2 separate regions of the Homo sapiens genome follow, and region 1 is linked to region 2. The links come from fine-mapping of genetic effects on gene expression. A gene starts in region 2. The other region holds a variant in brackets. All regions are shown on one strand. Distances are between the middles of the regions.

Region 1 (5,000 bases), 73 kb after region 2:
CTTTCCTATCTCTCTAGCTACCGATCTATCTATCCATCCATCCCTCCATCCTCCCATCTGTCTATCCCATTGGTTCTGTTTCTCTGGAGAACTCTAACTAATACAATGGCCATGAGCCCAGGAAGGTGCAGCCTCTAGACGCTGGAAAAGACAAGGAGACAGACCATCCCCTTGAGCCTCCAGAAGGAGGCAGCCCAGCGGATGCCTTGACTCCAGCAGAATGAAACAGATCCAGGACTTCTGACCTCCAGAACTAGAAGGTAGGAAATACGTGCCGTTTAAAGTCACTCAGTTTGTGGTGATTTGTTACAGCAGCAACAGGAAATGAACAGTGTCCAGACTGGCCCTGTTGTACTGTGGCTTGGGGTGGGGTCAAAGTTGTATGGTACAAATGGTCGCCTTTCCCAGGGTATATGAGTGGAATCCATAAGAAATGGTGTCTAGAAGGAGGACAAGCACAGTGACTGCCCGCTGAGCCCCACAGCCACGCTCTCCGGGCCCCTCCTGATTGTACAGGGATGTTTGTAGCAGCTTTATTTGTAAAAGCGAAAACTGAAAACAACCCGAATGCCCATCAACAGAGGAATGGATAATAGTGCTATATCCATGCGACACATTGCCACTCAGCAATAAAATTGACTCACGTTTAAAAAGAAGAAGAATGGTGCTACATGCAACAACATAGATTAACTCAAAATAATTAACCGAGTGAAAGCAGACAGAGAAAACAGAACACGTATGATACCATTGCCCTCCGGTTCCCGACTCGGCTTCCAGGGCCTCGTGCCAGGAAGGAGGTGCCCTCAACAAGCCCTGTGTTGCTGGACGGGACCGCCCCCCACCTCCAACAATTACTGGGAAGTTTTTCCAAAGTCAACCTCTTGATTACTGCGTCAGGTCCCTAGATCAGATGGTGCCAGGAATCAAGGCCAAAAAGGAGTTCTTGAACCAAAGAGCTGAGCAGGGACCGCCACCTCCTAGCCCCTCACACACAGCTTCCTCATGATAATCCTACTCTGGGTTCCAGGAAATGCCCATCCAGTCCTCCCCACATTAACAGAAGTAATGGAAGCAATGTTGAATGACTTTAATATTATCCAAAATTTGTTCAGGAGGGTAAATAGATCTATAAAGAATCATGTAATTGGCCAGGCTTGGGGCCTTATGCCTGTAATCCCAACACTTTGGGAGGCAGAGGCGGGCAAATCACCTAAGGTCAAGAGTTCGAGACCAGCCTGGCCAATGTGGTGAAACTGTGTCTCTACTAAAAATACAAAAATTATTTGTATTTTTACTACCACCAGCTGGGCTTGGTGGTACACGCCTGTAGTCCCAGCTACTCAGGAGGCTGAGCCAGGAGAATCGCTTGAACTTGGGAGGCAGAGGTTACAGTGAGCCTAGATTGTGCCACTGCACTCCAGCCTGGGTGACAGAGTGAGACTGTCTCAAAAAAAAAAAAAAAAAAAAAAAAAAAGTAACGTAAGCCAAAGCCCAGTGGGAATAAGATATTCATCACCAGCTGTTCTGAGTCATCACTATCTTTGCTGCTATTTGCATGAATAATGAAGACTGGCTTGAACCATGTCTAAATATTAAAATACACACTAATTTAATTCTGTTCTGCTTGGAGATCTTACACCAGAAGTTGTTGGGTGACAACAAATGCTGGTGTAAGATCTCCAAGTGGAACAGAACAGGACGGCAGGACAGAGATCTCTGACTCCCTGGCTCAGGAATTTATCCCAAGCACATACACATAGCAGGTACTCAGTAAGTATGCAGTGAATGGAAGAATGAATTTGAGTGAATGGGAAGATTTCCCAGGAAGAGCCACATCTCTGAAACACACAAACAAACTTGACAAAAAACCAAAACAATACAAAGCTGCATCAGGAATAGTACCGACTCACCAACTCACCTCATTATACCAGCCAACGATGAGCTCCAGGTTGCCCACAAACTTCCGGAAAGTTTCGTTCTCTGAGAACAGACTCTCCGCACTGTCTGGAATCTCTTTCTGTTGCTGGAAATTCAAATACTTGACTTCTCTCAGAACTGCCACCAACTAAATGACAAACGAAGATCAAAGAACATGTCAGCAGGTCAGGTCAACAGTGCAGTGTTCAAGCAACAGAAATGAGCATCTGCCCTGGGATGTTTTGACAGCCGGGGGGGATCTCAAAGTTGGTGGGAGGCAGTATTTGTTGGCAGGACCAGGACGTTTTCACCCTGTTGGCTGATCCTGAGCCGGAAAGCACTGACATCACCCTCATGGGTGGATGACATCACCCTCATGGGTGGATGACATCACCCTCATGGGTGGATGACATCACCCTCATGGGTGGATGACATCATCATTGCATGTGTATGACATCATTGTCATCACCACGGGTGGGTGACATTATCCTTATGGGTGGATGATGTCATCATTGTAGGTGGATGATATCATCATCACCATGGGTGGCTGACATCATCCTAATTTTCTTATCTCTGTCCTCTCCTACCTACTACCCACAAGTGGTTTGGAGTAAGACTTCGGGTCTTCACTTGTTTCCTCGCTGGAATCTAACCTTCTGTTTTCTCTCTGCTTTCACCCGGTTATGACCCGAGATCAACAACAGGGACATCCCTTCCAACAGTGCTTCTGTCCACAAAGCTATTCTCAAAGTTGAGATAACCTCCATATTGCTGAATCCACTGGTCACATCACGGGCCTCATCTCATGGGATCGCCCAGCCGCTGGCACTCTTTCCTTCTGGGCACACAGTGTCCTCCTGGCTTCCAGGACACTAGACATTCCTGGTCACCATTATTAGTCTCTTTTGATAATCTCAAGATGTCCATGATGGGGAGCCACAGACCTTGTTCCTTCTCAATTTACCCTCAGTTGAATGAGGTGTGATGTCATCCAACGTTATAGCTGCCTTGACCAGCCAGCCCATTTGTCATCTCCGCTGAATGAGGTAATGAGATGTCCAGTGTTGTGGCTACAAGTACCATCTCTGTGTGGGTGGCTCCCACGTTTATGTCTCCAACCCCAGCCTCTCTCGTGACTTCCAGCCTTCTGTATCCACCCGCCTACTCAGCTCCTCTCTTTGGATGTCCAG[G/A]TGACATCTCACACCCAACAAGGCTAAAGCACAGCAGCCCATCCTCCCCTGTGGCCTCTGCCCCACCTGCCCTCTTGGCCAATGGCAATTCTACCTGTCTACTCACCTGACCCTAAAACATTGGGACTGACTCCCCTCTTCCAATCACGCTCCATTTCCAACCTACTAGGAGTCTCCATGGCACTATATTCAAGTCCAGAAGCTCACCACCACCTTCACTGCTGCCACTCTGGTTCCAGCCACCACCTCCCAGCTGTCATCTCTTGCCTGGACTGTGCCAACAGGCTCCCAACTGATTTTCCTGCTCTTTCCTCCAGCCCCAGCTCCGTTCAATCTACGCACCTCACAGCGTGGAGAAGGGTCCTTTACAACTAGAAATCTAATCGCAGCACACCTCTGTCTGACACCCTGCAGGGGCTGCCATCTTGCTCAAACCAAACTCCAAGTCCCTCTGTGGTCCATGGGGCCCTTCCTCGTCACCTCTCATCTCTTCTCCTACGACCTTCCCCTTTGCCCATTCCCCCGCCCCACTGGCCTCCTTGCTGCTCCTGGACTGCACCAGGCTCTCGGGCGCCACCTGGCCTTTTCTTTACCCGCATGCCGTGCTGCAAAGCTGTTCCCTCCATCTCTGCTCAGCGGCACTCTGACCTCCCACAAGTCTCTGCTCACATCTAAAATTGCACCTGCCCCTTCTACCGGCTCTATTGATCTTCTTAACCTGCCCTTCCTGCTCTTCCTTCCGCGGAACCTGTTGCACCTTCTACCATATCATACACTTGACTCCCTCGTGAATGCTAGCTGATCATCCTCCCCGCCCTCCTGCCTGGAGGTAGGCTCTAGGAGGGCAGGACAGACAGCTCTCTGACTGTCTGGATCACTAATTTATCCCAAGCACATACATGTAGTAGGTGCTCAGTAAGTATTTGGTGAACGAAAGAATGAATGTTAGTGAGTGGGAAGATTTCCAAGGAAGAGCCGCATCTCTGGTTTCCCTGCCTTGCCACGTGCAGATTGGGCAGCTCTGGGGCTGTGCTTGTAGGAATTCGGTTCCATCCTCTGCTCATCTGAACTTTCCGGGTTTTAGCCATAGAACCCACATCCCAGAGCCCACAAGTGTGAATTCTCCCCAGTGTGCCTGCCTTGACCAGCCAGTGCATTTATCTAGATTCGGCAAAGACTTTTTCCCCCCCCCCAGTTTCAAATTGTCATTTCTTCTTGGGATCACAGGAACGCTTTCAAGAAGATACTCATTGAAGCTATTGTCAAAGTTGCTTCTGCTTTCCCTCATGTCTTAAATATACCCTGGACACACTTAAGAAGTAAAGCTTTAGGCGAACTGTGATATAAACATCGACCTCCATAAATCCGTGCTGAGGGAACCTTGGCAGGCCCTCCCCCCGCTCCCAAGGAGCCTTTGACGCGGTCCCCACTCCTGGCACCCACCGCTTTGCTGAAGTTGACGTGGATGAGGTTGCTAGCGGCGTCCCGCAGAATCAGCGGCTGCCCCAGGTTAAAGTGGCAGTCCTGGTCCACGCCCGCCACCCACTGCTGGTAGATCTTCTCGCGGTGGCACCTCAGCAGCTCCATCATCTCGTCATACTTCTGATAGGTCAGCTTGGCCTCTGCTCCAGACATGACCCTGGAATCAGAGCGGGAAGGCGAGGCCCCACTGGATATCTCCTGTGGGGTGTCTTCGGCACGTCCCATCGTTGCTGCCCGATCTGGGGTGCCGAAGCGGCCGGCCACCCAATTACTCGAGGCTCACAGACTGAATATGCAAACAAGCAGTGGCCAGACCAAATGTTCAAATGGAACTCCGACCTGCAGTCTGCAGCCACCAGCCCAGGAGGCCAAAATAGAACCCACGCAGCAACTGGCTCCCGACCGCCAGGC
Region 2 (5,000 bases):
CAGATGTGGACCTAGGGCTGAAGCTTAAGAATGTGGAGGCTCCTCCTTGAGGAAAAGAAAGCAAAAATCTTAAACAAATTTTACAAGGGCACATGACCGTGTGCAACCCTTGGAAGGGGCCTCGCGAGTTGCAGGGAAACCGAGGCTGAGCCGCCACAGCCCTCACAGTAGACCTGCCTGCAGAGAGGAACGGGTGGGCTCTCATGCATGCACCTGTCCTCCTCTCCTGTCTGGGTACCCTCAAATCTCCCACCCCACACCACGTTAGGTTCTCCTCAAATGATGTCAAACTCTCTCCAGGCTCCCTCCTCAGAGTGGCAGCTTTGTCACCTCCCCCAGGGAGCCACCTCTGATGCCTCCGTCCCCACATCACAGCCTGCAGCCCAGAGTAGGCTTCCTATAGTCGTGAGCTCTGGGAGTGTCGTTTAGTGAGGAAAAGGCAAGTGATGGAGTCAGACATATCTGAACTCAAAATCCAGTTCTGGCTGAGCGTGGTGGCTCACGCCTGTAGTCCCAGCACTTTGGGAGCCCGAGGCGGGCAGATCACCTGAGGTCAGGAGTTAGAGACCTGCCTGGCCAATATAGTTAAGCCCCGTTTCTACTAAAAATACAAAAATTAGGTGGGCATGGTGGCAGGCACCTATAATTTCAGCTACTTGGGAGACTGAGGCAGGAGAATCGCTGGAACCCAGGAGGCAGAGGTTGCAGTGAGCCAAGATCACGCCATTGGACTCCAGCCTGGGCAGCAAGAGCGAAACTCTGTCTTGGAAATAATAATAATAATAATAATAATAACCCAGCTCCGCCACTCATTAGGACCATGACCTCAAGTAGACTACCTAACCCCCCATGCCTGCCTTTCTCGGCATGAGGCCAGGCTTCATGAACGAGCAGACTAGTTTCTAGGCTCTTTTGGCCTGAGCTACTTGCTTATTTTAAGAGACAACTATGGCTGGGCACGGTGGCTCACACCTCTAATCCCAGCACTTTGTGAGGCCAAGGCGGGCGGATCACCTGAGGTCAGGAGTTCGAGAACAGCCTGGCCAACATGGCGAAACCCCTTCTCTACTAAAAGTACAAAAATTAGCCGGCGTGGTGGTGGGCACCTGTATTACCAGCTACTCAGGAGGCTGAGGAAGGAGAATTCCTTGAACCCAGGAGGCGGAGGTTGCAGTAAGCCAAGATCGAGCCATTGCACTCCAGCCTGAGAGACAGAGCGAGATTTCTCCTCAAAAAAAAAAAAAAAAAAAAAAAAAAAAAAGACAACTGAACTGAATGTTCTCATCTTTCCAAACTGCAAACCTAAACGTGCCACCTTTGGTTTCTCGGTGCCGTTAGGAGAAAATCTGCACTCTGTCCCGAGGCCCTGGGATTCTGGCTGCAGCTGCCCTGGGCACCCTCTGCCTCTGGCTCTCACATCCTTGCCACACCGGCCTTCCTGGGCTTCTTCACGTGTGGCAGGGCATTTACACGTGGCAATCTCTCCACCCAGAATGCTCTCCCTCTAAGGTCCCACAGCCAGCAGGACACTGCTGCCAGCTTCCAGCTGTGCACCATCTCCCCAGGGGCATCTCTCTGCTGGGGCTCCCAGCTGGGAGGCTCCTCTGTGACTGCACTGGGGGTTTTCCTCAGGGCTCTTCCTTTACCGGGTAATGTGCTTCTTCCTCTCCCGGCGGGACAGACACCTCGGTGGAAGGGGGGAAGGAGGATCCCCCCCTCCGCGGGGGCTCTAGGCCACTGCTGCATGTTTGTGAAATGGGTGATGGACGAAACTGATAGAACCTCTCCCCTACCCTGGCCCTACCTCAATGCCTTGTGGCCCCACAAACTTGGGGGCCCAGCTACGACCCGTGTCTCCCTACCCACGTTGCAGCACCCCCCCCACCGCCCCACACCAGTCCTGCCCTACTGCCCTGGGGCTCCGCCTCTTCCTGCGCCCCGCCCTGGCCCCGCCCTCACCGCCCCGGGGCCACGCCTTCCCCTCCGGCCCCGCCCCGTCTAACCAGTGCCGGTGGTCCATGTGCTGCCGGATGAGGGTGTGCGGGGCCACCGTCCCATACTTGTCCACCTCGGGCATGTTCATGTCGTCGATGAAGTAGACGAGCTTCTTAGTGCCTGGCGGCCCGTAGTTCCTCCCCGATTTCTTCTCCAGCGGCTTCTCCAGCACCCCTAGAGAGGGCAGAGGGTCAGCTGCCCGCCTGCGCCTCCTGAGCCAGAGCCTGTTAGGTAGGGAGGGGCGCTACCTGCTTCCCCGGAGGACAGAAGGTGGGACCTGGCTGGGATCCAAGTTTACCAAAGGTACCTGCCCTGGGAGTGGCCCTTGAGGGGGCACCGGGTACAGCCCCAGGAATAAACAGAGCGATCAGAGGCGAGGGTGGCAGGAACCTTGCTCTCCGTCACCTTTGGGTCGCCTTAGATTGGCTGAGACACTCCCGGGGGACCTGCTGCCTCGACTGGCCATCAAAACCCCATCACCATGCCCACAAGGGAGCACCAGAAAGAGGGGTCCCGGCTGCTCCTCCTCTGTCTCCGACTCAGGAAGGAAAGGCCAGCGGGTGGGGCATGGGAAGTGAGGAGGTGCAAAGTGGCTAGTGAGTGCCTGGGCCTGCAGTGAGAGGGGACAGGAGGGAACGGGGACTGGCGGGGGGCAGCCGGGTAGGCAGGGCGTGGCCGGACCAGCCTCACCCTGCAGCATGGCTGAGGTCGTGTAGAAGTTGAAGGGCACAGCCTGCACCAGGTAGTTGTCCGTGTTCAGGCTTTCCAGCTTGTCCCCCATCAGCACCGACTTGCCCGTCCCCGCGTTCCCCACCAGCATCACCGGCCAGGACTTCTCCATGAGCAGGTCCATGAAGTAGCGGATGCGGATGGTTTCCGTGGTGTGGACCAAAGAGGCCTGGGGCAGGGGAGGGAAGGGGAGGGAGCTGTGATTCTCAGACACTTCTGCCTCTCGTGGGTGTGCAGGCCATGTTCTACCGAACAGGTCCTAATGTTGAAAATCGGTTGTGTTTGGACATTCCGTGCAGGCGTGTGGAGGGTACTGCACCGATTCCTGCCTCTAAATCACCAGTCGGTGGCCCTGCTTTGGGGACAGTTACCTGCAGTGGGACATCGGGATCCAGCTCAAAGGAGGGCACTTTATCTGTCCAGGGCAGGAACTTTTTTGTGTCAGGATCAATGTAGTAGTCAAAAATCGTTCCCTGCGAGGGGAACTTGATAGTCTTGAATTCGTTGATCCACCATTTACTGAACTCCACTCGATAATCCACAAGCTGTTGAGACACAGAAGTAAAAATCAGGGCCCAGCTAAGCAGGATGCTGAGAGACCCTGTGTGGGTGGCCGGGCCCCCCAGGTGCATCACCTGGTCCTGGAACATGGCGCCACCGAAGGCCCAGAAGCAGGTGAACACGAAGTACAGCTCGTACAGCTCCCTGGGGGAGTCGGGGGGCACGGTCTTCTCCGTGAGCAGGCACTCCAGCAGGTACAGAATCGTTTGGATCACCGTGATCTCCGGCACTGGCGTGATCTTCTTGAACCCAAAGCGCAACTTGTCCAGGCACGTGGGCAGGTACTTGTCAAAGAGGATCATCAGGTTGGCCTTCTCCGACTGCACCTTGCGCCTCTCGATCCAGCTGCTCACCACCCTGGGGGTGACAGGAGGCGCCGATGACACAGCCGCTGCTCTGGGTCTGCCAGTGTCCCTGCCTTGGTAAACGCCCCTCCCTACCTCCACCCAATTCTGCTGGGGCTGCCCTCAGGGTCACCATGCCTGCATGGCAATGGGTCCAAACGAGGGTGCCAGAGGGGCCAGTTGCAGGCCCTGAAAGGGTCGGAGGAGGATGCCAGGGTCGTGGGGGCTGTGCCCTCTCTGGGGTTGCTAGCTATGGGGGTGCTGTAGGTCTAGAACAGTTGGAAGCCATTCTTGCTACCACACGGGAAGCACATACCAAGGGCTGGTGGATGGGGCAGAACAGAAAAGGAGAAAGATCTCATGATGTCATGTGGGGGGCACGAAGGTGGGGACAGTAAGGGAGCAGAAAGGAGAGACAAGGATAGGAGCAGGGACATTTCATTACATCATCTGGACTCCTGAATCCAGCCATGCCTGAAGCACCCCTTGGTGCTTTTTTTTTTTTTTTTTTTTTAAGCTTCAGTTAGTTTGAGTTGAATTTGCCATGTTCAGTGTAAGAGTACAAATCAATACAACCAGCAATCCTTGAAGAGCCGTGCCAGACTGTTGGCCACAGACATCTCTGGGTGGCTCGTGTGGAGGTGGCCCACCACGGCGGTGAGGGGTGTGGACTCTGGGGCCTGACTGCCCAGGCTTGAGTCAGCTCTACCATGGCCAGCTGCTGCTTTAGGCAGGTTACTGCACATGCCTGAGTCCCTGGTTTCTCATCTGTAAACAGGGGTGATGTTTCCATGACCCTCATTTCCAAGGACTACATGGGCTGATATTTTTAAAGCTCAGAGAAGGGGGCCTGGTCCAGGGTAAGTGTTGCCAAATCAGCATCTGCTGAAAGCATCACTAGTGCCTGGCCCCCTCGAGTGCCAGTGAGCTCAGCACGTGCATCATTTCCAGGATGCCCAGGGCCTAAGCAGGAAGCTCCTGTTAACACACACAGCCAGCCTGCCCTGCGCTGACCGGCAGACGTGCCTCTTTAGACAGAGACTCATTTTTTTTCTTCTTCTGAGATGGAGTCTTGCTCTGTAGTGCAGGGGTGCGATCTCGGCTCACTGCAACTTCTGCCTCCTGGGTTCAAGCAATTCTCCTGTTTCGGCCTTCCAAGTAGCTGGGATCACAGGCGTGCACCATCACACCTGGCTAATTTTCATATTTTTAGTAGAGACAGGGTTTCGCCACGTTGGCCAGGCTGGTCTTGAACTCCTGACCTTAGATGATCTGCCCGCCTCAGCTTCCCAAAGTGCTGCGATTACAGACATGAGGCACTGTGCTTGGCCAGACACACACTCTTCTGTGAGTGTGCTCTGGGGGAGCTCC

Evidence for each region.
Region 1: its variant is fine-mapped to the expression of DNAH17-AS1 in hippocampus (GTEx, PIP 0.99).

The regions. Positions count from the first base shown.
Region 1 is chr17:78,556,190-78,561,189 of GRCh38, forward strand. It overlaps DNAH17 (dynein axonemal heavy chain 17), which reads right to left. Exons shown (of 81, transcript NM_173628.4): 13 at 4,551-4,746; 14 at 1,919-2,065. Among named protein-coding and RNA genes, the nearest start is that of DNAH17, 19 kb to the right of the region's middle. RefSeq lists an enhancer at 1,738-2,937. The variant G/A (reference allele first, on the strand shown) is at 3,108.
Region 2 is chr17:78,482,865-78,487,864 of GRCh38, forward strand. DNAH17-AS1 (DNAH17 antisense RNA 1) reads left to right here and starts at 2,046. Exons shown (of 6, transcript NR_102401.1): 1 at 2,046-2,298. DNAH17 (dynein axonemal heavy chain 17) reads right to left here. Exons shown (of 81, transcript NM_173628.4): 45 at 3,360-3,642; 46 at 3,096-3,269; 47 at 2,686-2,893; 48 at 2,004-2,169. RefSeq lists enhancers at 1,559-1,698, 1,729-1,778 and a silencer at 1,849-2,078.